Linked DNA regions of Homo sapiens. The protein of the gene in region 1 interacts with the protein of each later gene in a pairwise test. Each region holds a gene or a part of one and is shown in the gene's direction. Other genes may lie near its edges.

Region 1 (2,357 bases):
CAGCTCAGGGCTGGACTCTAGGAAACTTTCTGAGGCTGGAGGGTGGGCGTGGGGTTGAGCTCAGCTGTTGAAGCAGGTGTTTGCAGATGTGCCTCAAGCAGAGGTGGTGGGCGGGGCTTGGAGGAGGTGGGTGGGGCAGGCCAAGCTCCTTGCCTCTGGTGGGCGGAGGCGGTCCTGGCTCAGATTCCACACCCTTGTCCACGCAGGTTCCTACTATCTGACCACCACCTACGGGGCCCTGGAGCACATCAAGAGCTACGACAAGATCACGGTGACCCGGCAGCTGAGTGTGGAGGTGCAGGACTCCATCCACCGCTGGGAGCGCCGGCGTACTCTCAACAAGGCCCGGGCCTCCCGCTCCTCCGTACAGGTGAGGCCTGAGAGCGGGAGGGGCCCGGTGGGGCCATGTCCCAGACACCATCCCTGCTGCCTGCTGGCTAAGGAGCCGTGACATCACCTGGCTGCTCCAGCCGCCCAGCCCTGCCTTAGGGGAGCAGTGAGACTCCCCACACCAGAGGAAGGGCCCCCAGCCCCTGCTGCCAGTGTGTGTCCAGGACTTGGGTGCGTCTAGAAACATATCAGCAGGCATTGGTGTTCTCCCTGGGCAAGCAGGAAGGGTGCAGGAGGAATGAGACACACCCATCATTCCTTAGCCCCTCCTAGGACCCAGCACCCTGCAGGGGCTGGAGATGGGGACTTGTCATCCCAGTCCCTGCTTTAAGGAGCCCACAGGCTCATCTACAGCCTTGCTCCTTAGTCCCTGGACAAATGCAGCAGCTGCCAAGGGTCTGCGTAACCCCCACCAACCCAGTGGCCCACCCCTCCCCATACCTCTCTCTATACAGACTCAGTATTCAAACCAGTCCCGCCCCTCCCCAACTCCATCACCCCACCCACCCCCAGGCTGCATCAAATCCAGCTGCCCCCAGTTCCCCAAACATGCCCAGCCCAGTTCACTGGCTGCTCAACCGCTGCCCTCACTGGTCAATCTCCCCTTCTTCACTGGCTGTCACTGCCCATCCTTTAAGACGACTCAGTTTCTCCAACAGCCCCTCCTCTGAGAAGCCTTCCCTGATACACACACACACCGTTTCACACAGGCTGGGTGGGGTGCCCTCCTCTGGGCTTCCTGCGGCCTCCCCTTTTACAGTGCATATCACATCCTATCATCCTCTGCATATGAAGCTGTCACCTCTGGGAGGGCACAGCCCATGGTTCACATGCCTCAGGGGCGCCAAGCCCAGGGCCTGGGACAGAGCAGGACTGGGTGTGTAAAAAAGGGTGAGAGTTGGACTAGTGAGCCAGGCACATCCAGAGCTGTGAGCAGCTATGCAGACTCACTCCTCTGACACCCAGAGCAGACCAGTCCTGAGCCACACTCCTGGCTTTCAAGATGGTGCATCTATAATAAGCAGAGCCCAGGCCTGGGAGACAGGAGGCTTGAGTTCTGGCCCCAGCCCTGTACTAGCTTGCTGTGTGACCCTCAGCAATCCCTGCCCCACTCTGGGACTCAGTTTTCCTGCCCACACAGGCTGACTATGGCTAATCAATTTAATAACTGACTCTCTGGGGAGAAAACAAAAGCTCTGATTTTAGCTTCTGTCCATTTCCATGGTGTGAGTCCTCCATGGCCAACTTCAACTTGGCATCACTGAATGTGGAGTTGGAAAGAAGTGTATGCAGTCGGCTCTCCCTGGCGGGTGTGAGCCAGCTCCAGCACACCTCTGTTCCCATCCCCTCCCAACACCCCGGACTCCCACAGACTGTAGGGACATGGACACTCTTGGTCCAAGCCTGGCCCAGGCATCCCGTACTTCCTGCTTCTACCTTAGGGGTTCCTGATGCTGAGCCAGGCAGAGTATGGATGAAACGGACCACCCACTGTTTGGGAGACGGAAGCTTCGGAGGGGGGTCCCCTCAGCACCACATCTGGGATCTGGGGAGGGCACCACCCTCTGCCCCCTCCCAGTGCCTCCTCCGCACACCATGCCTTGGGGGGTGGGCACCCTTCCCTGGGGAGGGGAAGCCCAGAGCTGGACAGTCACTAGCAGGTGGATAGTGCCCTGGGAGGCCTAATGGAGGACAAGGAGCCCTGAGGCAGCCACTAAGACGGAGGGAGTGGGCCGGGCTTTTCCCCTCCTGGAAGAAATGGGCGGTCCCCGTGAAGCTCTTGACAGGAGCCCGGCCTCGCCTAAGCCCTAGCCACCAGTTGCCATCACGGTCTCCGCCGAGCCGGGATCCTCAGCCGCTTCCCGCGCAGGCCTGCTGTTCCCAATCCGGCCACAAGGGGGCAGCCCCGCGCGCAGCCTCTCTGCCTGCAGCCCTGAGCCCCGGGGAAGGCGAGGCCGCTCCGGGCC
Region 2 (6,615 bases), on another chromosome or scaffold:
TTTAGCAGAGACGGGATTTCACCATATTGGCCAGGCTGGTCTCGATCTTTTATTTCTTAAATAAATAATCTATAAGGGCTGTAACAGTTTAAAGTTTATAATTTGGGCCAGGCAAGGTGACTCACGCCTGTAATCCCAGCACTTTGGGAGGCCCAGGTGGGTGGATCACCTGAGGTCAGGAGTTTGAGACCAGCCTGGCCAACATGGTGAAACCCCGTCTCTGCTAAAAATAGAAAAATTAGCCCGGTGTGGTGCCACATGCCTGTAATCCCAGCTACTTGGGAGGCTGAGGCAGGAGAATCGCTTTAACCCAGGAGGCAGAGGTTGCAGTGAGCTGAGATCGCGCCATTGCACTCCAGCCTGGGTAACAAGAGCAAAACTCGGTCTCAAAAACAAAAAGTTTATAATTTGGTTTGCTTTCATTATGCTTGCTTTCCTTATGGATGAATAAATTAATTCAGATTCATAGTCCTATTTTGGTGTCAAAAGATTTAACTATAGGTCAGGCATGAGACTGTCTCAAAAAAAAAGAACTATAGAAGGTAAATCATTTCAAAGAAATGTGGAAATTTGCATATAATCACATATTTATCAAGATATACAGTTTTTAGTATGTAGTACATTGTTTTCAAAATAATATATCTTAATTAGTTCTGTATAACTTTCCAATTGATTAAAGATCTGGTGCCATTGTATTATTCAGTACCAGAAATGAGCTGTATTTTTGCTTAATAACTTCTTTCATGTTTTACTTACAGGCATTTTTTACTGTCTACAGAAACTTATTGTAATTCATTTTTCCTCACTCCAGTAGTAAGAATTATACCAAGTAAGTGGACTGTATTGAAACTAATTAATTTTGTAACAGTTAATGAGAATTTAATTGGATAGTGGTTGCTGCATGTGTTGTGTTCTCAGTGGAACGTTGAATGTGACCTCATAAATAGGAAAATGATTTTTTTCTTGAAAATTATTTATATTCTGATCTGTGTGATGAGTACTTTTTTCTGGAAGCCAGGAGGCCGATACATATTTGTGACAATATTTTTTTAAAGGAAATGTCTCCGCCTTTAGCTTGAAAACTACCTAAAAATACTTCCAATGGTAGGAAATGTGCCTATAAAACTCCTAGTATGGTGCCATAGGCACAGTGTTTCTTTTTTTATATATACACAAAATAAAATGACTTAAACATGTGGTTTATTGTAATTATCCAGTTCTCACAATTTATATCAACATTTGAAAAAGAATTTTTTAACCTCCGTAAGAAAGAAAACAGAAATCAGTTTCTGCCTTGAAACCTGACTGGAAAACAATCTGAAATACAAACAGAGGCATCATTTAACACTTTTCTTATACCATAGATTTTCAGGTGGCTCACATATTTCATATTGCCAATAAATTCTTCAGTTAGAATTTTTATAACGTCATTAACAGTTGTTATTTGTGACATATTTGTTAATTTTTTCTCGTTTTTTAGATTGAAAAGATATGAATGAGTATCCTAAAAAAAGAAAAAGGAAGACTCTACACCCTTCTCGTTATTCAGGTCAGTGTATAATTATTTTAAAGTTGGGTATGGATTAATTCCCACAAAATTATATTCTCATCCATTTTCTCCTAAGTGATCAGATAAGACTTAAATATCTGGGTCAATATTTAGGTAAAACAACGGTTTAAATACATTATCTGAATATATATTCCTTATTGTCTACCATGTGCTAGGCACACATAAGAACTTTACAGACATTATATTATTCCTCACAGCTCTATGGGTTATAAATATTTAAAATTAGATAGCCAAGGTTATTTACTTATATAACATAATTGGGATTTGCATGTCTGATACCTAAGCTGTGCTTAAGACCCAATAATGACAACCTTGGTAGAAAATATTTTACATTATTGGGGAAAAAAGACTTTATCCTCTTTATTACTTTAGGAAATGTAAACTTTCATGCTGAATGTGTAATTTTTTTTTTTTTTTTTTTGAGACAGAGTCTCACTCTCTAGCCCAGGCTGGAGTGCCATGGTGTGATGTCAGCTCACTGCAACCTCTGCTTTCTGGGTTCAAGTGATTCTCCTGCCTCAGCCTCCCAAGTAGCTGGGATTACAGGCGTGTACCGCCACACCTGGCTAATTTTTTGTAGTGTTAAAGTAGAGATGGGGTTTCACCATGCTGCCCAGGCTGGATGACTGTGTAATTTTAGATCCTTTCATTGAGGTTGGCTCTGCTGTGTTGGCAGTATAAGAAAAGGGGTCTTTGTGGCCATCTCTAATACACCTCGCATACATTTACTTGGGACCATCTCAGTCTTACCTATTAGTCTACCCAGCCTACACATTCTTCATATCTGAAGAAATTAACCCTAGTATACTGCTTACTGGCCCTTCCTAGACAACACTTGAAATGACTATATTCAGAAGCCCTAAGTGGTCCTTACCATTTCCCCTATGTAACAACCTTTCTCTGCATGACATGGCACACCTTCCTGGTGTTTATTTCACTGTTTTGTGCAGTTAATACAGTGTTTATCATATATTTTTATTTTGTGTGATTCTGAGTATAAAACAAATGTATCCTTGTATATTTCAAAGTTGTTATGTTTTAGAGTATGTAATTTGTGGTTCTTTCAAAGTCCTATGTCAATATTGGATCTGAAATATAAAAGCTTTAAAAGTTGAAAATGTATAATATTTTCATTACAGATACTATAATTAACATTAAGAACATTTGTATAAGTTAGATAACGGGAAGTTTCTCATTAAATATGTATGTTTACTGTACTTGAAATATTTTTCATTTTATGTTCAGATTCCTCTGGAATAAGCAGAATTGCAGATGGATTCAATGGAATTTTCTCTGATCATTGTTACAGTGTCTGTTCTATGAGACAGCCAGATTTAAAATATTTTGACAACAAAGGTATATCTAATATTTTCGAAAATATGTTTCTTTAAACTGCTTTTACATTTTTTATTCCTTACTTGAAAATGTGGGTAAAATGTGGATTGATGATTTCAAAACAGACAAGTCTTTGAAATTTGTTACAATGTAAGAAAACAAAGTTGTATTTTTTTAAGAAAGCAAGTAATTTTAACTATTCTTTTTTTTTTTTTTTTTTTTTGAGATGGAGTCTCGCTTTGTCGCCCAGGCTGGAGTGCAGCAGCGCGATCTTGGCTCACTGCAACCTCCGCCTCCCAGGTTCAAGCAATTCTCCTGCCTTAGCTTCCTGAGTAGCTGGGGTTACAGGTGTGCGCCACCACGCTCAACTAATTTTTGTACTTTTAGTAGAGACAGGGTTTCACCATGTTGGTCAGGCTGGTCTCAAATTCCTGACCTCATGATCCGCCCACCTTGGCCTCCAAAAGTGCTGGGATTACAGGCTTGAGCCACCGTGCCCGGCTGTAATTTTAACTTTTAACATTATTTCTGACATATAAATAAAAAAGTGCACTCTCCTAAGTCCATTTTTTGAAGGGGGTGGGGTTAGGGGGAGACAGTCTTCATTCTGTCACCCATGCAGCCATGTCTCACTCCATGGATTATGGCTGACTGCATTCTTGACCTCTTGAGCTAAAGCAATCCTCCCACTCAGCCTTTTGAGTAGCTGGGACTACAGGCATGCACCACGATGCCTGGCTAATTTTTAAAAATTTTTTTGTAAAGACAGGGTCTTGCTGTGTTGCCCAGGCTGGTCTTGAACTCCTGGCCTCAAGCAGTCCTCCCATGTTGGCCTCACAGAGTGCTGAGATTGCAGGTGTGAGCCACGGCTCTCAGCCCTAAATCCACTTTAGTTGGTTAGGAATTGGTGGCAATGCAGGAGTGACTCAGAGTTGGAGTATTTATGTTGAAAGGTTAAGAATAGTGTTAGACACAGTTCTACTCAGCTATACCACATAGTGTGGAAGAAAAGAACAGAGGGTGATTTGGTATTTTTCAATGTTGGATCTTCTATTGGTTCCTCTGTTCTACAGCATTGGTGAATGATAACAATTTACAACTTGCACTTAAGTTAGAGAGTTAGAGACATCGGTATGAATTCCTGTTTAGCTTACTATAGATTCAGATGGCTACATACAGAATGCTTGTAGATATGTGTGTGTATATATATGTGGTACTGTACACACACACTTTGCTGTGTTAGCTGAGAGGGGCTAAAAGAAATGACACCCAGAAGCAGTGAGCATGAGCACATTCAGTGCCCAGCTCTTGGTTTCTAATGCCTCCTTGGGAAAATGGCTGATTCTAGGTCTGGGGCAGGAAATATACAAGATGAACCTGGAGCATTTTGTAGTGCTGGAAAATAGGAAAGTACTTAAAAAAACCTAAACACACGCACTTGACAGGGGTATGCCAAAGGGGCACACGTCAACTTAAAGAGCTCCCAACAGCCAAAACTGAAAACTATTTGGGGACAAAAAATTATAACCCAGAGTATAAAATAAATATCCATGAATTCATGCTGTTATAAATTATTAAATAGAGGAGATGAGGCAAATCTGTGCAGAAAAATTCCAAATTATTAGACTTCATCTTAGCCAAAAGGCCAAGAAGCAGTAAAACTCCAAATTATTTATGTAGCTACTCCTCCCTCTAGGAGGTGGAATATAAGTCTGCACTCCTTAAGCATGGTCTGCACATAGTGACTTCTTACAAAAGGTAAAGTATGGAAAGTAAAAGCACAACTTTAGGCCAGGTGCGGTGGCTCACGCCTGTAATCCCAGCACTTTGGGAGGCTGAGGCAGGCAGATCACCTGAGGTCAGGAGTTTGAGACCAGCCTCAACATGGAGAGACCCTGTCTCTACTAAAAATACAAAATTAGCTGGGCGTGGTGGTGCGTGCCTGTAATCCCAGCTACTCGGGAGGCTGAGGCAGGAGAATTGCTTGAACCTGGGAGGCGGAGGTTGTGGTGAGCCGAGATCGCGCCATTGCACTGCAGCCTGGGCAACAAGAGCGAAACTCCATCTCAAAAAAAAAAAAAAAAAAAAAGACAACTTTATAGTGTTGAAACCTGATAGAGACTTAGCCAGGTGATCAAGATCAACATCAACAACCATAAATCATATTGATAGTATGTACCCTTGATAAGAAGTGATGAAAATGGCAATTTACCTCTGGTCTATCTCCCAGTAATCCATAATTCCAGCGTAATCATTTTAAAAAAAAGAAAGCAGACAAATTCCATTAGCAAGGCATCCTACAGAATACCTGATTAGTACTCCTCAAGGAGTGAGAAACTGCCACAGCCAACAATAGCATAGAGAGACATGGCACCTTAATGGAATGTGGTATCCTGGAACAGAAAAGGGACATTAGGTTAAAAACTAAGGGCATTTAGATGACTTTATTGACTTTTATTAATAAGTTACCAGTATTGGTCATTAATTGTAACAAATGTGCCACACTAATGTTAGATGTTAGTAGTGGAGAAACTGGGATACATGGGACCTCTCCATACTATCCTCTCAGATTTTTCTGTAATTCTAAAACTATTCTAAAAAATAAGGTCTATTTTAAGAAAACATGATGGATGGGCTGAGTGTGGTGGCTCACGCCTGTAATCCCAGGTCTTTGGGAGGCCAAGGTGGGAGGATCGCTTGAGGCCAGGAGTTCAAGGCCAGCCTGGACAACATAGCAAGACCCCATCTCAAAAAACAAGAATTACCCGGGCTTGGTGGTGCATGTCTGTAGTCCTATCTACTCAGGAGGCTGAGGCTGAAGGATCACTTGAGCCCAGGAGTTTGAGGCTGCAGTGAGTGAGCCATGATCATGCCAGTGTACTCCAGCCTTGGCAGACTGAGCAAAACTTGGTCCCTCGCAAAATGTTGAAGCCCAGTTTTCACTATTAACCTGTATTTCAGTTTCCCCATGCTAACTTTGAAACACTGGGGCTGGCCTGAGGGTATAAAGGCTTATTCAAACTCAGTAATTTAAACTTAAAATCCTAAGGAACTTCAAAAAGTGTAATCTAGTCCAAATGGGGCATCAATTCTAAAGCATTTGCTTGTTTGAGCAGATTTTCTGTGTCTGAGGTATATAGATAACTTATCTTTTTATGACTAAATCCAAGTCCTTAGTTCCTGTTGGAATTCAAAATCATATTTAAAAATTGATGCTTTGTTCTATAATTAATGCTTTGATTGTATAAATAATAAGTATTCTTCCAAATCCCTTTTTACAGATGATGATTCTGATACCGAGACGTCAAATGACTTGCCAAAATTTGCAGATGGAATCAAGGCCAGAAACAGAAATCAGAACTACCTGGTTCCCAGTCCTGTACTTAGAATTCTAGACCACACTGCCTTTTCTACAGGTTGGGGGAACTAATTTATAGCATTGATATATTTTGTATTGGTGAATTTTAAAAAAAGTGCATGCAATAAATTTTTTTTTGCCCAGTTGTATTTAACAGATCTTATTTAGTTATAGTCATATAATAGGTTTGTTTTATTCTTCAGAAAAATCTGCTGATATTGTAATTTGTGATGAAGAGTGTGACTCACCTGAATCAGTCAACCAGCAAACCCAAGAGGAGAGTCCTATAGAAGTTCACACTGCTGAAGATGTTCCAATTGCTGTAGAAGTGCATGCGATTTCTGAGGATTAT
Region 3 (6,615 bases), on another chromosome or scaffold:
TTATAAAGTCTCTCCTGCTGTAAGACATTCTTCCAATTATTTTATTTACTGATTTAAACTTTTTTTTGGTACAGATATTTTTTAACACATACAATGTTGACAGAATAGTCAAATAAAGTCCCAGAATAAACTCCCTTGCCCCACACTCATCAGCCCCTGGCTAATCCTACCTCATCTACAACCTTATCTTCTTCCTCCACTCCCATATTCAATTACTTTATCTTTTAAAAAAGATAATATCATTTGAAGAAGGCATATTAGCCTGAAATAACCTCATTCAATGCTGGATTGCTTATAGGGATCATTTGATGGAAATGTTTTTTTAAAAGGCAAATACATTTAATGCACACATATTATTATTCCTGGGGATATTATCTCCCTATTATAAGCACTGAGCATCACTATAAACAACCTTTAAGAATCATTGTTGCAAAGCAATGTAGCAAGTCATTACATGGTGGAAATTCTATATCTTTTAAAAAATCTGCCCTAATGCTATGCTAATAGGTCCTTCTTGTTGAGATGCAATTTCTAGGTGACAACCTCCTACTCAGGTATAAAACAGGGCTGCCTCTTTAAACGTACAGATAGAAGTGAAAGTGAGCTGCTCAGAAAAGCTGGGCCAGCTGCCCCCAGAAATGATTCTGGTGGTGAGGGAGATGCCGATGTTGAAGATGCAAAGACAGAATTGGAGATAATTATTCCCCAAATTTATGTGGGATTAGAAAAAAGTAACCTTTCCAAATCAATATATTGTTGATTTATATTACTAAATTAAAATTATAAGTAGATATTTGACATTTTTATTTATATCTTTAAAAGTTTCCTTTTAAATTTGCAAAATAAATCTTTCTATAAATCCTCTCTTTGGAAAAATGAGGGCTTGATTGCCTTATACTGGAGGATACTTTACATTAGGTAATATACAGTAACCAGGGGGCTTGAGCCAATAGAAGCCTAAGGAGTTAATAAGGCAGGTCTACCCCCTTCCCCACCTCCTCTGCTTCCAGAATTTGACCAAAATTAGCCTCAATGGCAATTGTCTGCTTGAATATCACAGTGTCCTTCAAAGGCTGTGGTAAGTACAGAAAGTGCTCAATCCTGATTCTTTTATGATTAAGAAAAAAGTAAGTTTCTCTCCTGCCTTAACCCACCCCCTGCCAACGCGCGCGCCCACAAACACACACACACACACACACACACACACACACACACACTTCCCTGATGTCATTTGGGAAGACTCAGGGATGCAGTCCTTAGCAGGTCTGAGACTATATATCTCGTTCTAATGCTAGCTTCCACCCTTTTCCAGCTGGGAACCACTGAACCCAATTTTGTCATCTGTGAGATCGGGACTGTCTTGGAGTGCACAACTCAGGGCAGATACTCTGGTCAGGAATCAACATTGTATTCTTGGCTCAGGGGCCCCTCATGCTGGGTCTCTGGCCCCGAGCATGGCATTGGGAGTGCAAAGAAGGGGAGAAGGATTTCAATTCCAATCCCATGACCCTTCCTTTTCCTGGCAGTGGCCTGCAGGAAGGCTCTTGACAGCACGACAGTCGCGGCTCATGAGTCGGAGATCTACTGCAAGGTGTGCTATGGGCGCAGATATGGCCCCAAAGGGATCGGGTATGGACAAGGCGCTGGCTGTCTCAGCACAGACACGGGCGAGCATCTCGGCCTGCAGTTCCAACAGTGAGTTACTGCCCTGCTCCCCCTTGCCTGTTAAAGTCTCCAATTATCAGGACAGTTCATTTCGTTCCCATAGCAACGTTTTCTGGAAGTGGGAGAATGGACTCTATTGTTGACTTGCCAACAATAGGAATACTCAGTCTGACCAAGTTTGAACAATGTGTCATCTCTCCAAAGACTCTCTTTAAATTATTTGCCATTCTAAAGGGCAATTACTTTTACACCATGGCTCTTGGTTTGCATGTCAAGAGAAAACCCAGGATGTACAGATGTTCCATTGTTTGACCTTTGCAAAACTGCATGGAGTCTCCTTTCTTCCCCGTTGAGAGTTTCTGTGTAAATCACACAAATATGGCAGGGCAGCAATGGCCATTCTTTGTGTGCCTGTCATGAAAAGATTTCTTCCCTTGGATTGTAAGATGACAAACGTCCACATGGCAGGGGGAGTGTGTCTGCAAGGATGGGCTGTGCCTCAGAGTAAACAATCAATCATGATTTTTCTGGGGGTTCCCTGGCTGCCTGTTGCCAATACAGTGCTAGAGTTCCCGCCACATTATCCTAGGGAAGCTGGGACATCACTCTGGCCACCTCCATCCACCAGTCTGGTCCCCTGGGTCCACTTTCTTGATAACCACATTGACCTCCAGCCCAGAATTGAGGAAAGTCTGATGGCCACTGGCCTGACACTACTCTCTGGCCAGCTGGCCTCCAGGCTGAGCTCTGCACTGCGACTGGCCAGAAAGGCCCAGCCCAACCAAGGAAGTGTCCCATGGAGGGCCTCCCCCAGAGAGCACTTCAGCCATCTGAGGAATCAGCTGATCCCTTCAAAAGAGAGTAAGCCACAGGAGAGCATGGAAACGTGGAGAGATGTGTGATTAGTCATCTTAGAGAGAAGACTTCTTTTTGTTAGTTTGTCTTATTACTCAATCTCAAATGGAGACTCTTGTTAAGGAAGAAAACATACCACTGCATTCTCTGCCTCACATTGACTGAAGTTCACTTTTCAACATTAGGGCTTCCTAGTGATGCTGCACAAAGAGTAACAAGGTCTGAAGACCTAGGATTTCCTCCTAGGTCCATCATTCATGAGCTGCCTGGCCTTGGGCAGTCACACTCTGATCCTCACTCTCCTCCAACCAGCCCTGCCTACCTTATAGGGTTGTGGTACAGCTCAAGTGATATAATATACAAGCAAACACCAAAAGATACCAACACATGAGAGGCTATTATTATGTCTCTATTTTGGACATTGTTCTCCTGGGACAGGTGACCCTTGGAGGCAGGACGACAGCCTGGCTTGTGATAAGGAATGCATCAGCTCATGGACTGTGGTTCATCAGGAACTGATTAGCACCCATTGTCAAAATCCCACCTTGCTCTGTAATTTTCACAACTCTCTTTAGAAAGGAAAGAAGTGGCCTTGCAAATGGTCCAGAAAAACACAAATAAGCACAGTAGTAATAACAACACAACAACAACAATAACACAAGCTAACATAACTAGAACATTTGCTAAGTGCTTCACAACAAAAAGGAAAGCTCTAAACCCATTTTAGCAAACATTTATTAGCCCTTACTACATGCCAGGCGGGCACTGTTCTAAGTGCTTTACAAATGTCGCCTCATTTAACCCTCTCAACAACGCTATGAGAAAGACACCATCATTATCCCCATTTTCCAGATGAGGAGTCTGAGACACACGGAAGTGAGGTCACTTTCTCAAGGCCACACAGCTCTTCTACTCTTTGCCAAGGGAAATCTACGTTTCATTCATTCGTCTATTTCCAACAGGTCCCCAAAGCCGGCACGCTCAGTTACCACCAGCAACCCTTCCAAATTCACTGCGAAGTTTGGAGAGTCCGAGAAGTGCCCTCGATGTGGCAAGTCAGTCTATGCTGCTGAGAAGGTTATGGGAGGTGGCAAGGTAAGACCTTCTGTATGAGCCAGACAGAATTTGCTCATCTCCACCAGGCCATTTGGGAGGAATGAGAGAAAAATTGGGAGCTGCAAGCAGCTGTCATTCTCTCTAGCTCCCAGAACAACTTTAGAAACCACACATCCTCAGCCACTTTCCCAGGCTGGGGCTGTCTGTCATCTAGCATTGCCCTTTGAAAGCTGGAACTGGTGCAGTTTGAAGCAGCAAGCATTATTCTACTAGATGGAAGGCACCCAGCTGAAAGTTCTGGGATACAAAGCAAAAGCCCGTCTACCCTCCAGTGTCCACAATCCCCCCAAAAGATGTCAGCCCCAGACCAACCACTGCCTAACTCAACCTGTTGCTGCCACCATGACCAATGGATATAGCAGACGCCTCACAGTAGTGAGAAGCATCCTCACTTACGAACTTCCTGGCTCTCAGGAAAGTCATCAGATGTCCGAGACACTCATGCATATGTGCTCTGCAAGTTCCAGTTTCAGGCCCAAAGCCTGGGTACTCACCAAAGGAGTCAGACCTGAGGAAAGAGAAAAATTATGTTTATACCACATGGTGGGAGGAAGGGCCGTGGGGAGCATCTAACTTCAAACACAAGGGCAGGCTCCACCCTAAAACTGGCCATTTGAAGACATAGGAGAAGCCCTGGGCTGTACCTGGTAGACACGCAGATGTGCAGGAGGATGGAGATCTAGAACATCGAAATTATGCAACTCTGCCTCAGAATTACACAGAGGAATTAAACCAGAGAGTTAAAACAAGGTTGAATTCCCTGAACAATTGCCTGATTTCTTTATTTTTTTTCCTTCTGTAACTTTATACTCAACATAAACATCACCCAGTGCCCCCAGCCCAAGTCCTTCTCTGACCAGTTTGTTCCTTGGATCTTTTTGGCCTGGGGAAGCCCTTTCCCGTTTAGTCTATTCTGAAGGAAAACATATGCAAATCACCATGACAAATCCATTTTCAGGCTTCTGAGAAGTGCTGGCTAAGGCCATAGCATCTCATTTTCTCCAAACCCCTGGAGAAATTATGGGGCCCATTAGGTAAGCAAATGGTTAAGACGTGTCACTCCTCTGGATGCTGCTGGTCAGGGACTTGAAATGGAAACAGAATGTGTTGCCTACCTCATTAAATATGCAACTTTTCTGTGCCCCTCAGCCTTGGCACAAGACCTGTTTCCGCTGTGCCATCTGTGGGAAGAGTCTGGAGTCCACAAATGTCACTGACAAAGATGGGGAACTTTATTGCAAAGGTGAGTGATTCTGGAGACTTTCTTGAAATATGTTTTCCCTAAAAGGGCCCTTGGGAGAGGAAATTACGTTCATGCCTGGAGGTCTTCCCGTGTCTTCCAGGAGGTATGGCTGCTCAGCCTGGGCAGCGTTGGGTTCTCAGGAGCAAAACCACCTAAGGGGAGGGAATCTCCCACCTGACCCAGCTCTGGTCCTCTCCACTGGAGCACCTGGCAGAGACCAGATGCTTTCAGATGCTCAGTGGTTCGGGAAGTTAGGCACCTGGGGGAGAGAGGAAGGGAAGAGGAGGAAACAGTGCCCTGCCTCTGGTCTTGGAAGAGGCCTCAGGCCAGGACAACTAACACCACACCCCCTTCCAAAAATCGAAACACCATCTGTTCACCTGAGTGGCAGAGGGGGTGACTGGAGGAGGGTGAACTCAGTTTGGCCTCACTGGAGTTTATCATGACATGTCTATCTCCCTCCTGCCTACCCCGCACTAACAGTTCTGTTGTCGATGTTGCACGTTACTTAGTGATCATAGGGACAGATCTGGTTTTCCTCCTGGTCCTTGCAGCTCTGACCCTCGCTGCCTCCATAATCCCTTGGTCTTGTGGAGAAATAGTAGAGGCTTAGCTCCTTCTTGACACTATCAAAGGAAGGAATGCACTAGGGCCAAGGCAATGCGTCCTCCACCCCTGAGCCTAGGCCTATTCTGTTGCTCAGTGGAGTTTCATCACTTAATGATGGTGTCTCAAGAATCTCCAAAGGAGTATGTTGGAATGAAGTGAGAGGAGCAATGGAAAGGGAGTTAAGAGAGAAGACTTTATAAGTCATAACTGTACTTTGCTGTATTAGTCTGTTCTCATGCTGCTAATAAAGACATACTCAAGACTGGGTAATTTATAAAGAAAAAGAGGTTTAATGGACTCACAGTTCCACATGGCTGGGGAGGCCTCGCAATCATGGCAGAAGTCAAAGGAGGAGCAAAGTCACACCTTACATAGCAGCAAGCAAGAGAGCAAGTGCAGGAGAACTGCCCTTTATAAAACCATCAGATCTCGTGAGGCTTACTATCACGAGAACAGCACGCCCAGTGATTCAATTATCTCCCGCTGGGTCCCTCCCACAACATGTGGGGATTATGTGAGCTAATCAAGATGAGATTTAGGTGGGGATACAGCCAAACCATATCAGCTGCCAAAGCTTTTCCTGTGATGACACAGGATGGGAACTAGCTCACTATCTGACAGATGATTGCCGTCTCCTGGCAGTAGAAGACCTACGGGGTCCTCAGCCTTCATAGCTCATAATGCCCTAAAATATTGCCGAAGTCAGTAGGGAAATTAACATGTAAATGAATAATTGCATTGCAAAGTGAAAAAAAAAGTCTATAGTAGAGAAACATTCACAATGCAGTCACCTAAAAAGAGGAGAGGAACCAGCTTGGGGTAATGGGGAAAGCTTCTCACAAGACAGGCTTCCTCTGAGGCTTGATGGGTGAATGTGGGTTTGGGAGGGGGCATTCCAGGAAGAGGGATCATTGATTACAAAGACACTTAAGCTGGGACATCATGGTTCATTCCAGGTACTGCAAGTGGTTCTGTGTGCCTGGAATGTAGGAAGGGAGGCAGAGGCGGGAGGCAACAGGGGACGAGGTTGGGCAGGCAATCCTCAAATGAGAAAATATCTGCAAACACATTTAGTAAAGTGGCAAGAAGTGTAAACAATTTTTATTAACAGATCTAAGATAAGTATT
Region 4 (6,615 bases), 7.0 Mb from region 1:
CCCAACTCTCCTGGCTCTCTTCCCTCCTCCCCAGTGCTCCCGCTCAGTCCACTTGGCTGGCTGTCCCTATGCTCCCAACTTCTCAGTGATGGCTTAGTTCTTGGTCCTCTTCTCTGTCTGTATCCATTCCCTTGTGGCCTCATCCAATCACTGGGCTGGAAATACCACTTCTCTGCTGTGGGCTCTCAAATTTATGTCTCTAGCCTACAGCCCTTCCCTGGGCTCCAGATCTGAGTGTCTAACTTCCTGCTCAATAGTCCACCACAAACCTTACCGGTCCCAAGCCAAGCTCCTAATTTCATCTGCTTGTCTGAGATTGGTCCCCCCAAAGCTGATCCTGAGATAAGAAATGAAGTGTAAGTAGTTTAGGAGGTGGGGGATGATCCCAGTTTGAGCAGTGGGAGGAGGAGAGTGGATAAAGAAGGTAAACAAACCAATAAAACAAGTTACCTCTTGGGGAAACAGGTGCAATTCCCTGGGAACCCTGGGGACTTGTGTAGAGCACATGCCCAGAGCTACCCCAGAAGTGGAGGGGCTGAGGTCATTGGTGGAGGGCTGCTCAAAGTGGGTTCATCTCCTGTGGGCAGAGCCAGAGACGGCCCTGGCAAATTGCAGGGGGTGGGCACGGTGGCTCTGCCACCCCAACCAGCTCCTCCTCATCTTGGTAGATGGTCGCTCCATCCATTCTTCCAGCAGCCCAGGCCAAAAACACAGAGTCATCCTCACACCCCCATAGCCAAACGGCACGTTCCAGTATTCCGCCTCACAGAGCATTCAGAATCTGACCTCTTCTTATCATTGCCTCCGCTGCCCTGCTCTGTTCTGAGCCCTCGTCACCTCTCCCAGTCCTTCCCTGTCACTAGTGTCCCTGCTTCCTCCCCTACCCTGGTTACTCTCTGCACTGCTGCAAAACAATCCATTCAAACCCAAGTCAGATCCCATCTCTGCTCTGCTCAAAACCCTCTAGTGGACCCCAGCTCACCAAAGTCAAAGCAAAAATCTGGACCACAGCCCACAAGGCTCTACATGACCTGCCCCCAGTCTTGGTGACCCACCTTGTACTCTGTTTCCCTCAAGTACTCTGCCCGAGCCACACTGGCTTCCTCACTGTCCAAGCACACTCTGACCTCAGGACCTTGGCACCTGCTGTTCCCATTGCTTGGAAGGCTCTTCCCCCGCTTCTTGCAGGTCTCATCTCACAAGCCACCCTCTTAGAGGGACACTGCGTGCCCTGCCTGCATTAACCCATTTATGCCTGAGGTTGCAATTTTTTGAATTTGAAAAATCAGACCTTGGTGTTGACCTTGAGCAGTAGGACATAAATAACTTCCACAAGCTTAGCGTTCCAATAATGGAACACTAGGCATAAATGGGTTTTAAACGGACACCCACACACTCATCCCCAGCCCTTCCTCTTCCCCGTACTCTGTTCTCTTTTTCTCCTATCACCCTCTGACATTGTCTTTACTTGTTTATTTACTCTCCGCCTTTCCCTGGGAGAACGTGATTTTGTTGTCACCCATTGGGGATGCTGCATTGAGCTTGGTAGGAATAAAGTCATACAGGAGACAGGAAGTCATGGGCCCCTTGGAATGAGCTTCAGGATGACACTGCACTGGCTTCTTTACAATTTGGTGAACACAGCAGATTTATATGACCAAACCATCCCTTGCTGAGATGGGCTTTGGGGAGCCCTGGTACCAGCTGTGCAATTGTGGGCAAATGACTTCACCCTTTCATCTCGGCTGTCCTATATAATACGGTTAATAACAGACTGATCAGCCATGTGGGGAGGTTGGAGGGGTGAAGCCTAGCGTGGTGGTGCCCAGCCTGGTCAGTATTGGGGAATATCTGAGGGTGATCCCACACAATATTATTGAGTCCTTTCTATCTGCCAGCCCCCAACTTCTGTGCCAGGGAGACAGGAAAAAAAACTGTTTCTTCTCCAAGGGGGTCTTTGGAGCTGGTCAGACCTGGGTTTGCATCCTGTCTTCATTCTTACTGCCTGGTGTCCCTGAGCCAGTGCTGTAACCTCCCCATGCCTCGGTCCTCCTGTCTGTGAAGTGGGCCTAGTAATAAGATCTTGTGGGGAAGGGAGCGTTCTTTCCTGTTGACTGCTGGTAAGCCTAATGTTTCCTGTTTCTTCTAGTTTCCTTCTAGGACACCTCCCCTGCTTTTGGAAAAAGGATGAGGTTGGTGGCCGTGTGCTCCAAGATGTGTTTTTGGATTGGTGGGTTCTCATTTGTCACTTGTTGCCCTTACTCCAGGTTCCCTTGGGGCAGCTCCCCCAACCCAATCCAGCACACAGACTCCCAGCCTCACCTTCCCCTAGCCCAGGTTACTCCCAGCCCCAGCAGTTCCTCCCCTGAGTGGAGGCAGGTGAGGCTGGCTTGGAAGCCATGCTCTGCCATTCATCCACTGCAGGACCTTAGACCAGCCGTCAGAAGCTCTCTGAGCCTCAGTTTCCTCATCTGTAAACTGGGTGGGGGGGTGTGACCAGGTAACAGTCATTGTTTGGTGTGTCACTTTTTTACATTTTTCAAAGTACTTTCAAAGATGCGAATCATTTGATTCCCAGGACAACCTTTTGGGACAATCAAAGAAGGAGTGTTTCCAACCCTATTCCATGGCTGTGGAAACTGAGGCCTGCTGGGGGACATGACTCGGCAAGTGAGCAACAGGGCAGAGCCTTGCCCCCAGGGCTCCTGGGCCCCAGGACAGCACTCTTTTGGTAGCATGCATTGAGCACCTTCTGGGACGGGAAACATCGGTTTCTCAGCTGGGCGGGGTTGGTGATGGTCATACCTCAGGTGGTTGACAGTTTCCTTCGGGTCACTTTGGTTTCCAGGGCTAAGAAGTATGGACCTGTTGTGCGGGTCAACGTCTTCCACAAAACCTCAGTCATCGTCACGAGTCCTGAGTCGGTTAAGGTAGGAGGAAGAGTGGTTTCCATGAGGGAGTTCCCTGCCTTTCCTTGGGTTGGGGGAGTGAAGCCTGGTCCCAGAGACTTTGGATGAATGTTCCAGAGCCAGGCGCATTTCGGCTGGTTTCCCAAAGATCCAGAAAGGAATGGCATCTTTCCCTCTAAGCACCCACTCCTTGGGGACTCTTGCAAGCATTGCCTTTTGATGTGGGGAGTAGATGGGGACCTTGCTGTCCCCATTTGGGTTGGAAGTTTTGCCCAACTAGTGCACACACGTTTAGTTTGCCTCTCTTTGCCTCAGTTCCTTCATCTGTGAGATGGGAATTATAACTCTATCTCCAGGGCTATGATAAGAATTAAAAATTGATCAGTTTATTTAACAAATAATATGTCAAAACATCCTTAAAGAGTGCTTACTATGTACTTTTCTATGCACTTCACAATTAGTGACGCATTTAATCCTCATAGGAGTAGGGACTCTTATTAGTCCCTTGGCCAACATGGTGAAACCTCATCTCTACTAAAAATACAAAAATTAGCTGGGCATGGTGGCAGGCACCTGTAATACCAGCTACTCGGGAGGCTGAGGCAGGAGAATCACTTGAACCTGGGAGGTGGAGGTTGCAGTGAGCAGAGATCGTGCCATGGCACTCCAGCCTGGGTGACAAGAGTGAAACTCCATCTCAAAAAAAGGGCCAGGCACAGTGGCTCATGCCTGTAATCCCATCACTTTGGGAGGCTGAGGCTGGTGGATCACCTGAGGTCAGGAGTTCGCGACCAGCCTGGCCAACATGGTGAAACCCTATCTCTACTAAAAATACAAAAATTAGCTGGGTGTGGTGGTGGGCGCCTGTAATCCCAGCTACCTGGGGGGCTGAGGCAGGAGAATCGCTTGAACCCGGGAGGCAGAAGTTGCAGTGAGCTGAGATCGTGCCACAGCACTCCAGCCTGGGTGACAGAGTGAGACTCCATCTCCAAAAAAGAAAAAAAAAAAGAAGTGAAATGAGGGAACCAAGGCAGGTGGCATTGTCTGTCCTGTCTGCCATGAAGGTTCCAAGAATGGGTATCTGCTGTGGAGTTGGCAGAACTGGGCTCAACTCCGGGCTCTGCCACCAACTGGCTGTGGGACCTTGGACAAGTTGCTTCATTCTGGGCCTCCATTTCCTCATCTGTGAAATAGAGTTGGTGCCTCTGTTACAGGGTGGTTGTAAGAATAGAACTAAAATAATATAAATGAGCCATCTAGCCCCTGCCTGGCACACAGCAATTGCTCAATAAACAATGATGCATTTTTTTTCTTACCATGGGTGCGCAGCAGATGTGTGGGGCAATTCTCTGCAATGGAGGGTGGCTGTGGTGACTCTGAGAGGGATAAAATACAACTTACAGTCAAGACAAGGAGACAGGTTGAATGAATAACCAGGAATCTCTAGCAGAATGTTAAAAATAATTTTTCATTAAAAGTTTAATTTCAAACATAGACACAATTTAAGACTTGTAAAAGCATGCTACCAAAAACCATGCACAAAGACTTTCGTGATGCTTAATGAGAAAAGAAGTTTAAAGATATATATTGATATAGTGAATTATACTGATTGATTGATATTCAAATGTTAAACCAATCTTGCATTCCTGGTCATGATATATTATCTTTTAATTATTGTTAGATTCAATTTGCTAATATTTTGTTAAGAGTTTTTGTTTCCATATTTATTTGATTCTTGTAATGTCTTTGACTGGTTTTGACATCAGGTTAATACTGACCTCATAGGATAAGTTGGGAAGTGGTAACTTCCTCCTCTATCTTCTGTAAAAGTTTGTATGGGAGTGATGTTATTTCTTCTTTTAATATTTGATATAATTCACCAGTGAAGTCATGTGGGCCTGGAGTTTTATTTGAGGGAAATTTTTATTTTTTTTAAGTTACAAATTTAATTTTGTTTACATTGTATGTTTTAAATTTTAAATTATGATAAAATGCACATAACATAAAATTTACCATTTTTAGGTGTAGAGTTCAGCAGCATTAAAGACATTCACATTGTTGTACATCCATCACCACCATCCATCTCCAGAACTTTTTCATCTTCCCTAACTGAAACTGTGTATCAGTTAAACAATAACTCCCCATTCCCCTCCCCCCAGACCCTGGAAACCACTATTCTACCTTCTGTCTCCGTGAATTGGACTACTTTATGTGCGTCATACATGTGTAATCATATGGCATTTGTCCTTTCGCATCTGACTTATTTCACTTAGCATAATGTTTCCAAAGTGAATTAATCTTGTAGCATGTTTCAGCATTTCCTTCTCTAGTTGACATATGGCATTCAGATTTTCTGTTTTCTTGAGTTTGATAATTCACATATTTCAAGAGATCTGTTCACTTCACATAATTTGCTTAAATTATTGGCATAAAGTTGTTCATGAGATTTTCTTTCTTTTTTTTTTTTTAATGTCTGTAGGATCTGTGATATGTTCCCTCTCTCATTCCTGAGAGTAGTAATTTGGGTTTTCTTTTTTTTTTTTTTTCTTGATCAGTTCACCAAAAGGTTTATCAATTTTATTCATCTTTCCAAATAAGTAGCTTTTAGTTTTATTGGTTTCCTTCATTGTTTGTCTTCTATTTCATTGATTTCTCCTCTTTTTTTTTTTTTCTTTTTGAGATGAAGTCTTGCTCTGTCACCTAGGCTGGAGTGCAGTGGCGTGATCTCAGCTTACTGCAACCTCTGCCTCCCAGGTTCAAGTGATTCTCCTGCCTCAGTCTCCCGACTAGCTGGGATTACAGGCGCCCACCACTGCACGTGGCTAAATTTTTATTTTTTTGGTAGAGACAGGGTTTCACCATGTTGGCCAGGCTGATCTCGAACTCCTGGCCTCAAGTGATTTGCCTGCCTCAGCCTCCCAAAATGCTGGGATTGCAGGCGTGAGCCACCACCCCCAGCCAATTTCTCCTCTTTCTTATTTCCTTTCTGTATTCACTTTGGGTTTAATTTGTTCTTGTTCTGATTTTTAGGATGGAGTTTAAACAATTGATTTTAGACATTTTTTCTGTTCTAATGTAAGCATTTAGAGCTATACATTTCCTTCTAAGCACTGCTTTAGGACAAATTTACCACAAATTTTGATATGTTTTATTTTCATTTGGTTCAAAATATTTTCTAACTTCCCTTGTGATTTATTCTTTGAACCATGGATTATTTGGATGTATGTTATTCAATTTTTAAATATTAGGGGATATTCTAGATATCTTTCTGTTATTGATTTCTAATTTAATTCTGTAAAGTCAGAGAGAATACTCATCATCATGATTTCAGTCCTTTTAAATTAATTGAAATTTGTTTTATGGCCCAGCATATGGTTCATCAAAGTGAATGTTAATGAACCCTTAAAAAGAGTGTATGTTGTGTTATTGTTGAATAAAGTGTTTTAGAAATGTCGATTAGGTCAATTTGGTCAATAGTGTTATTCAAATCTTTTAAATCCTTTCTAATTTTCTGTCTACTTGTTCTAGTGGTTGCAGGGCAAGGAATGTTGAACCCTTCATAATCATAGATTTATCTATTTCTACTTTCAGTTCCATTAGTTTGGCTTCCTGCATTTTGAAGTTCTGTTATCAGGTGTGTACACATTTAGGATGGATTTGTCTTTATGATGAATTGACTCTTTTATCCTTAGAAATGTTCATCTTT
Region 5 (7,213 bases), on another chromosome or scaffold:
AACTCAAAAAACACAGAAAAGAGGAAAAAATTAAAATAATTTAGAAAAACCTCTCAACCAGATGTAATTACTGTCTATGCATTGGCGTACATCCCTCTAGTTATGTACATAGTTGGGGTCATGCTGAATGTTTATCATTCTTTTTTTTCATAACATTATTGTCAGAGATATTTGAACCAGAATAACTCCATCTCGAATAGGGGCTGGGTAAAAGAAGGCTGGGCTGCATTCCCAGAGGGTTAAGTATTCTAAGTCATGGGATGAGATAGAAGATTGGCATAAGATACAGATACAGATCACAAAGATCTTTCTGATAAAAGAGCATGCAGTAAAGAAGGCAGCCAAAACCCACCAAAACTAAGATGGCGACAAGAGTGAACTCTGGTCATCCTCATTGTTCATTATACACTAATTGTAGTGCATTCGCATGCTAAAAGATGTTTCCACCAGTGCCATGACTGCCAATTTCCAGAAGTTACCCTGTATAGTCTAAAAAGGAGAGGAACCCTTAGTTCTGGGAATTGCCCACCTCTTTCCCAGAAAACTCATGATTAATCCACCCCTTGTTTAGCATATAATTAAGAAATAATGATAAGTATCCTTAATCAAGCAGCACATACTTCTGCTCTGCCTATGGAGTAGCCATTCTTTTGTTTCTTTACTTCTCTAATAAACTTACTTTCACCTTACTCTGTGGACTTGCCCTGGTCCTTCTTGCACAAAGTCCAAGAACTCTCTCTTGAGGTCTGCATTGGGAACCCTTTCCAGTAACATTATGGCATAAGAATTTCTCATGTTATTAAAATAGTTTTAAATAATTGTGATGGCTATACAATATTTTGTCTTATGGGTACAATGTAATTTTACCGTTGTTGGCTCTTTCTGCTATTTTCAATTTTTTTTTCCTATGATAAAATGAAGACAAAGTCTATAGAATAAAAAATACAGTGACTAGACGTCTGGAGACATAGGAACACCTGAATATAGAATTGTCTGTATTAACCTTGCTTGTATTCTCATTTCAGGAGAGTGAGCTCTCAACAGGGTCTACTAAAGAGAAAGCAGAGGGTAACAAATTGTCAGCTTGTCTCCAAAGCAGTGTGAGAGTATTCTAATTTTGATGAACCATCCCAGAAATAGTTTGAAGAGAAGTATGTAGGTATTTCAACAGACTTATTGGAAGTACTCAAGGGCATTCAACTCTCATTTTTCTAATTCTGGGATCATGCTGCTGAGGTATAAATTTATGGCTAACTGATTTATAAATTAACTAGAACATCCTGTGCAAAGATTTGGTTCTTTAGCCAAATACAGACTAGGCACTGGTTCATAAATTAATCCCTCTTAGGTGGCTGGTGTCACTTCCCAGAAGCATGATAACTGTGGCACAAATAGAACCAGAATGGCCAGGTGTGGTGGTGCATGACTGCAGTCCCAGATTCCTGGGAAGCTGATGTGGGAGGATTGCTTGAATCCATGAGTTCTGGGCTGTAGTGTGCTATGCCAGTTGGGTGTCTGCACTAAGCTCAGCATCAATATGGTGGCCTCCTTGGAGCAAATCACCAGGTTGCCTAAGGAGGGCTAAACGGGTCCAGGTTGGAAATGGAGCAGGTCAAAACTCCTATGCTGATTAGTAGTGGGACCATGCCTGTGAATAGCTACTGCACTCAAGCCTGGGCAATAAGCAAGACCCTGTCTTGGAAAAAAAAATATACCCGGAATGCAGTATTTCTAGATTTATAGAACACCATCATGGTTTTGATAATAACTGGTGAAGCCCAGCCTGGGAAGCAAGATAACTAGCCTCATTCTTTCTAAAAACACTTCTTTGCTGCATTAATAACCAACAGAGGAATTCAACTCCTTGGAACCTTCCTTCCAGGATGCATACAGGTGATGGTGTAGTGATACCTGTGAATTGCAACATGACTTTTTCAGTCTCAGTACTGTATCTAGTTCATGGTATAATCTTGGGAATGTTAAGGATGCAACTGGGAGCTTCACTAAGTCCTCTGGATTCCCTGGCTACCACTAAGCATACTAAGACATAGCCTAATTGTCCCAAAGAATTAACAGAGTTGGGTTTCAATCAAACCTGTCACCATTGTTTTAAATTATGGGCTCTAATAGAGCTGGCATTGGAACTTGAAAAGAAACTCATGTAATTATATTCTTCTAATGATATAGCAAATGAATTTTTGCTTTTAGAAAAAATATTGGGTAGTGAAGAGCCACATTCTTTTTTATCCACCTAAACTGATTACACACACTTAGCAATGGAACAAAAAATTAAAGGTATAACAGGTACCAACTTCATACAAAATGCACACACACAGAGGATATATAAATGTGTGTACACATACACATATGTTCCTTGGCCCCTGTCTGCTGTTGATAAATCAAAATCTAGATAATAGTGTGGTTTTGTCTTGAACATTTCTATCTGAATGAAAACAACACAGTGTAGGAGTTCCTTGCCCTCGCTTTGAATGCTTAGGACAATGCAAATTGGGGTTTCCCAGCATATTGCAACCGAATCCTCTTCAGGCCCTGTCAGCTGTGCTCCAGACAATGCCATCCCCAAAGACAGAATTGCTATGGTTCATAACAGTGAAACCCACAGGACAAGTGTCCAAGAGTTTCACTCCTTTCTTTTGTGGAAACAGCCTCCACCCTCAGGCAAAGAGGAAACCCAGGGTTGGCCTTGACTAACAGCTTGCATAGGTATGGTGGAGCCAGGGTGTTTCAGTAAGGGTGGTGTGGTCATTTGCCTCTGCATTTATAGTAAAAGAAAACTGATAATGGAGTCCCAAGAGACAGCAGTCAGGGAAAATATGAAACATCAAGTCCAAGAGAATGAGCAAAAAGCAAAGCCAAACTTTCTGGTGGAGGAAGCAGTAGGGTGTGGGGTCGGGATTTTTTTCTAAGTGCACACCCCTGCAGCAGAGTAACCAGCCAGAGCTGGGGGAAAAATTAGGATAGCTACCTGTTAGGCATGTAGGGGTGTGTTTGCATGTTTAGTACGGCATAAATTCTTCAAAGACCTGATGGTCTTTAATATTCCAACCAACTCTCGTTTCCCCATTTTGTCATTAAATTAGCTTAAAGAGGAACTTGTAGCTTTTAGAGAACTCATGAGTTTTCCGCTTCATCATCTGCTTCTGTTTTCTCCATCTTAGTTTGCCCAAAGCTTGCTGGCCGCTGTGTAGGGCTGGTGAGTGGCTGGGGCTGTCTGAGCCATGAACAACTTCAGGGCCACCATCCTCTTCTGGGCAGCGGCAGCATGGGCTAAATCAGGCAAGCCTTCGGGAGAGATGGACGAAGTTGGAGTTCAAAAATGCAAGAATGCCTTGAAACTACCTGTCCTGGAAGTCCTACCTGGAGGGGGCTGGGACAATCTGCGGAATGTGGACATGGGACGAGTTATGGAATTGACTTACTCCAACTGCAGGACAACAGAGGATGGACAGTATATCATCCCTGATGAAATCTTCACCATTCCCCAGAAACAGAGCAACCTGGAGATGAACTCAGAAATCCTGGAATCCTGGGCAAATTACCAGAGTAGCACCTCCTACTCCATCAACACAGAACTCTCTCTTTTTTCCAAAGTCAATGGCAAGTTTTCCACTGAGTTCCAGAGGATGAAGACCCTCCAAGTGAAGGACCAAGCTATAACTACCCGAGTTCAGGTAAGAAACCTCGTCTACACAGTCAAAATCAACCCAACTTTAGAGCTAAGCTCAGGTTTTAGGAAGGAACTCCTTGACATCTCTGACCGTCTAGAGAACAACCAGACGAGGATGGCCACCTACCTGGCAGAACTCCTGGTGCTCAACTATGGCACCCACGTCACCACCAGTGTCGACGCTGGGGCTGCTCTTATTCAGGAGGACCACCTCAGGGCCTCCTTCCTCCAAGACAGCCAGAGCAGTCGTAGTGCCGTGACCGCCTCTGCTGGACTTGCCTTTCAAAACACCGTGAACTTCAAATTTGAGGAAAACTATACCTCGCAGAATGTCCTCACCAAGAGCTACCTCTCAAACCGAACCAACTCCAGGGTGCAGAGCATTGGAGGGGTTCCTTTTTACCCAGGCATCACCCTCCAGGCCTGGCAGCAGGGTATCACCAACCACCTGGTGGCCATCGACCGCTCTGGCCTGCCGCTGCATTTCTTCATCAACCCCAACATGCTACCTGACTTGCCAGGCCCCCTGGTGAAGAAGGTGTCAAAGACAGTGGAAACTGCTGTGAAGCGCTATTATACATTCAACACCTACCCTGGCTGCACAGATCTCAATTCTCCCAACTTCAATTTTCAGGCCAACACGGATGATGGCTCCTGCGAGGGGAAAATGACCAACTTCTCTTTCGGTGGGGTTTATCAGGAATGCACTCAGCTCTCAGGGAATAGGGATGTCCTCCTCTGCCAAAAGTTGGAGCAGAAGAATCCACTCACTGGTGATTTCTCCTGCCCCTCTGGCTACTCCCCGGTGCACCTGTTATCCCAGATCCACGAGGAGGGTTACAACCACCTGGAGTGTCATCGAAAGTGCACTCTCCTCGTCTTCTGCAAGACCGTGTGTGAAGATGTGTTCCAGGTGGCAAAAGCTGAATTTAGGGCTTTTTGGTGTGTGGCCAGCAGCCAAGTACCTGAAAACTCAGGACTGCTTTTTGGGGGCCTCTTCAGCAGCAAGAGCATAAACCCCATGACAAATGCACAGTCATGCCCAGCCGGCTACTTTCCACTGAGACTCTTTGAAAACCTCAAGGTATGTGTTTCTCAGGACTATGAGTTGGGAAGCAGGTTTGCGGTCCCCTTTGGCGGGTTCTTTAGCTGCACAGTTGGGAACCCCCTGGTAGATCCTGCTATATCCAGAGATTTAGGGGCACCGTCTCTGAAAAAGTGCCCCGGGGGCTTCAGCCAGCACCCAGCCCTCATCAGCGATGGATGCCAAGTGTCCTATTGCGTCAAATCCGGGCTCTTCACAGGAGGGTCCCTGCCCCCTGCCAGGCTCCCACCTTTCACCCGGCCACCCCTCATGAGTCAGGCTGCCACCAATACTGTCATAGTGACCAATTCTGAGAATGCGAGATCCTGGATTAAAGACTCCCAGACCCACCAGTGGAGGCTGGGAGAACCGATAGAGCTGCGGAGGGCCATGAATGTCATCCATGGGGATGGTGGTGGTCTGTCAGGAGGGGCTGCAGCTGGGGTCACAGTGGGGGTCACCACCATTCTGGCTGTTGTTATCACCTTGGCCATCTACGGCACCCGGAAGTTCAAGAAGAAAGCATATCAGGCAATTGAGGAAAGGCAGAGTTTGGTTCCAGGCACTGCAGCAACTGGAGACACCACTTACCAAGAGCAGGGGCAGAGTCCAGCTTAAATCTCTCCCCGAAAATGGTTTCTCTCATCTCCAGTGTGGTCATTGCTGACCACTCTGTTTTCCTAAGCATTGAAATGGCAAGTGCAACCAAAAGTAGGTATATTCGTGACTTCTTGTTTAGGTCTCTGGGCCAGGAAATTCATACTGTTACATGGATAAGGTTGGGATTGGGGAGAGGGAACAGTTGGGACTAGAAGCAAAAGTGATTCTGGGACTAAAATAGGAAGCAGATGTCCTTTCCCAATGTGTGTTGCTGTCTTCACCTGAATGCATTTGTGTAAAAATAGCGGAGGGACAATGTGAACATTTGTATTTGGAAGCTATGAATTTACTCTGAAGTTTGCAGTTGTTTCCAATTTGTGAGCTCTAAGAGTTTCTGCCTGTAAGAACTACTCTCCTTTTATTTTGATTTTTAAAAACCTGTCTGAATTTCACACTCTTAGAGCCTGGAAGAGCCCTGAAAAGACACAAGTCTTGCCTGGCTACTGCTTTTTAACTTTGAGGGCTCTATGTTGACAGACTGTTATCTCCTCTGGGTGACCTCAAACATCTGAAAAGAAAGATGTTGCCTGTGCCAATTCCACTTTTTCCAGCTGCCCCTTGATGAACACTCCCTTATACCAGACCACTCTTGGACTTCTGACTGGTGTCATCAAGTCCTCAGAAAATATTTTAAGTTATTTTAAGTTATTAAGGAAGGGATGATTTGGAGACAAGGAGTAATGAAAGATGGGTAAAAACTGGAAAAGATTCTGGTGCTAAGTACTACCCCTTCATCTTCCATGGATGGTCATTACCTTTCCTGTCCTCCTGTTATATGAACACACACACACACACACACACACACACACACACACACGCACACACATACCACATTTCAATAAGTCTTCATTGTTCTGGGTCCTTACCTTTCCTGTCCTCCTGTTATATGAACACACACACACACACACACACACACACACACGCACACCACATTTCAATGTCTGCATGGTTCTGGGGGTAACAAAGGCAAGAAGTTAAAGTAAGACCACATTTGAGTATTACTTACTCTGTAGAATCAAAACAGAGTAGTTAACACCAATTATGCAAACTACTTTTTTTTCCAGCAGAAAGGGAGCTGACATGATCAAATCCATGTTTTCAAATGAACTGAAAAAGGCATCCAGCACCACTTATAACACATTTATTTCAGTTCCAGGCTGACAGCCCTGGGGCATCTAGCAGGATGCATAATTGTCATCTGGTGAGAGTTGGGACTTTGCTCAATTTTAATACCAATCTCTCCTGATTGTAATTACCTCCACTACTTTCATGATCCCCCTACAATATTTTTTTAAATGATATATTTATTCACTGAATCAAATGTCATTAATGAGTTATCTTCTGTGGAGGATGACTGTTCTCTTTGTTAATGTTCACAATCAAGATCTTGGGCTGAGAAGAGGCCCTTCACCCAAGGAGTTTGAAGTATCACAGTGTGTGGGAAGGTGGGAACCAGGATACCCATTCATTTCCAACCGAGACACAGAGAAGTGAGTCACAGAATTTGAGCCCGCTCTCTTGACTGCCCAGCCAGAGACACTGATTTCTGTAACCTCTTCACTTGATCCTGCCTCTTAAGCATTAAAACATTCTCCTAAACCTCTGAGTGTTTTGTGGGTTCTGGGTGTTTTGTACATTTTAGCCAAGCTAACCACTTGTCTGCAAGTACTGACTTTCCTATGAATTCTTTGAAGATTATTGAGTCAGAAAGGAAAAATATAGCCCCAAATTCCCAGGCTTTTAATGCATTACATTAACTGCCTATTGAAATGAGAAGTTCT

Evidence for each region.
Region 2: the proteins of RIN3 (region 1) and ZNF639 interact in a two-hybrid assay, tested with the Homo sapiens proteins (one large-scale study listed by BioGRID and IntAct).
Region 3: the proteins of RIN3 (region 1) and CSRP3 interact in a two-hybrid assay, tested with the Homo sapiens proteins (one large-scale study listed by BioGRID and IntAct).
Region 4: the proteins of RIN3 (region 1) and CYP46A1 interact in a two-hybrid assay, tested with the Homo sapiens proteins (one large-scale study listed by BioGRID and IntAct).
Region 5: the proteins of RIN3 (region 1) and MPEG1 interact in a two-hybrid assay, tested with the Homo sapiens proteins (one large-scale study listed by BioGRID and IntAct).

The regions. Positions count from the first base shown.
Region 1 is NC_000014.9:92,684,781-92,687,137, forward strand, and holds part of RIN3 (ras and Rab interactor 3), read left to right. Parts: intron 1-206; coding exon 207-370; intron 371-2,357. UniProt on the Homo sapiens protein: Ras effector protein that functions as a guanine nucleotide exchange (GEF) for RAB5B and RAB31, by exchanging bound GDP for free GTP. Required for normal RAB31 function.
Region 2 is NC_000003.12:179,326,803-179,333,417, forward strand, and holds part of ZNF639 (zinc finger protein 639), read left to right. Parts: intron 1-162; exon of another isoform or gene 163-542; intron 543-758; 5' UTR 759-829; intron 830-1,480; 5' UTR 1,481-1,491; coding exon 1,492-1,549; intron 1,550-2,815; coding exon 2,816-2,926; intron 2,927-6,186; coding exon 6,187-6,321; intron 6,322-6,466; coding exon 6,467-6,615. UniProt on the Homo sapiens protein: Binds DNA and may function as a transcriptional repressor.
Region 3 is NC_000011.10:19,183,216-19,189,830, reverse strand, and holds part of CSRP3 (cysteine and glycine-rich protein 3), read left to right. Parts: intron 1-1,526; coding exon 1,527-1,695; intron 1,696-3,482; coding exon 3,483-3,615; intron 3,616-4,785; coding exon 4,786-4,879; intron 4,880-6,615. UniProt on the Homo sapiens protein: Positive regulator of myogenesis. Acts as a cofactor for myogenic bHLH transcription factors such as MYOD1, and probably MYOG and MYF6.
Region 4 is NC_000014.9:99,688,932-99,695,546, forward strand, and holds part of CYP46A1 (cholesterol 24-hydroxylase), read left to right. Parts: intron 1-2,149; coding exon 2,150-2,230; intron 2,231-2,848; coding exon 2,849-2,930; intron 2,931-6,500; coding exon of another isoform or gene 6,501-6,543; intron 6,544-6,615. UniProt on the Homo sapiens protein: P450 monooxygenase that plays a major role in cholesterol homeostasis in the brain. Primarily catalyzes the hydroxylation (with S stereochemistry) at C-24 of cholesterol side chain, triggering cholesterol diffusion out of neurons and its further degradation.
Region 5 is NC_000011.10:59,208,892-59,216,104, reverse strand, and holds the start of MPEG1 (macrophage-expressed gene 1 protein precursor), read left to right. Parts: upstream 1-3,177; 5' UTR 3,178-3,239; coding exon 3,240-5,390; 3' UTR 5,391-7,213.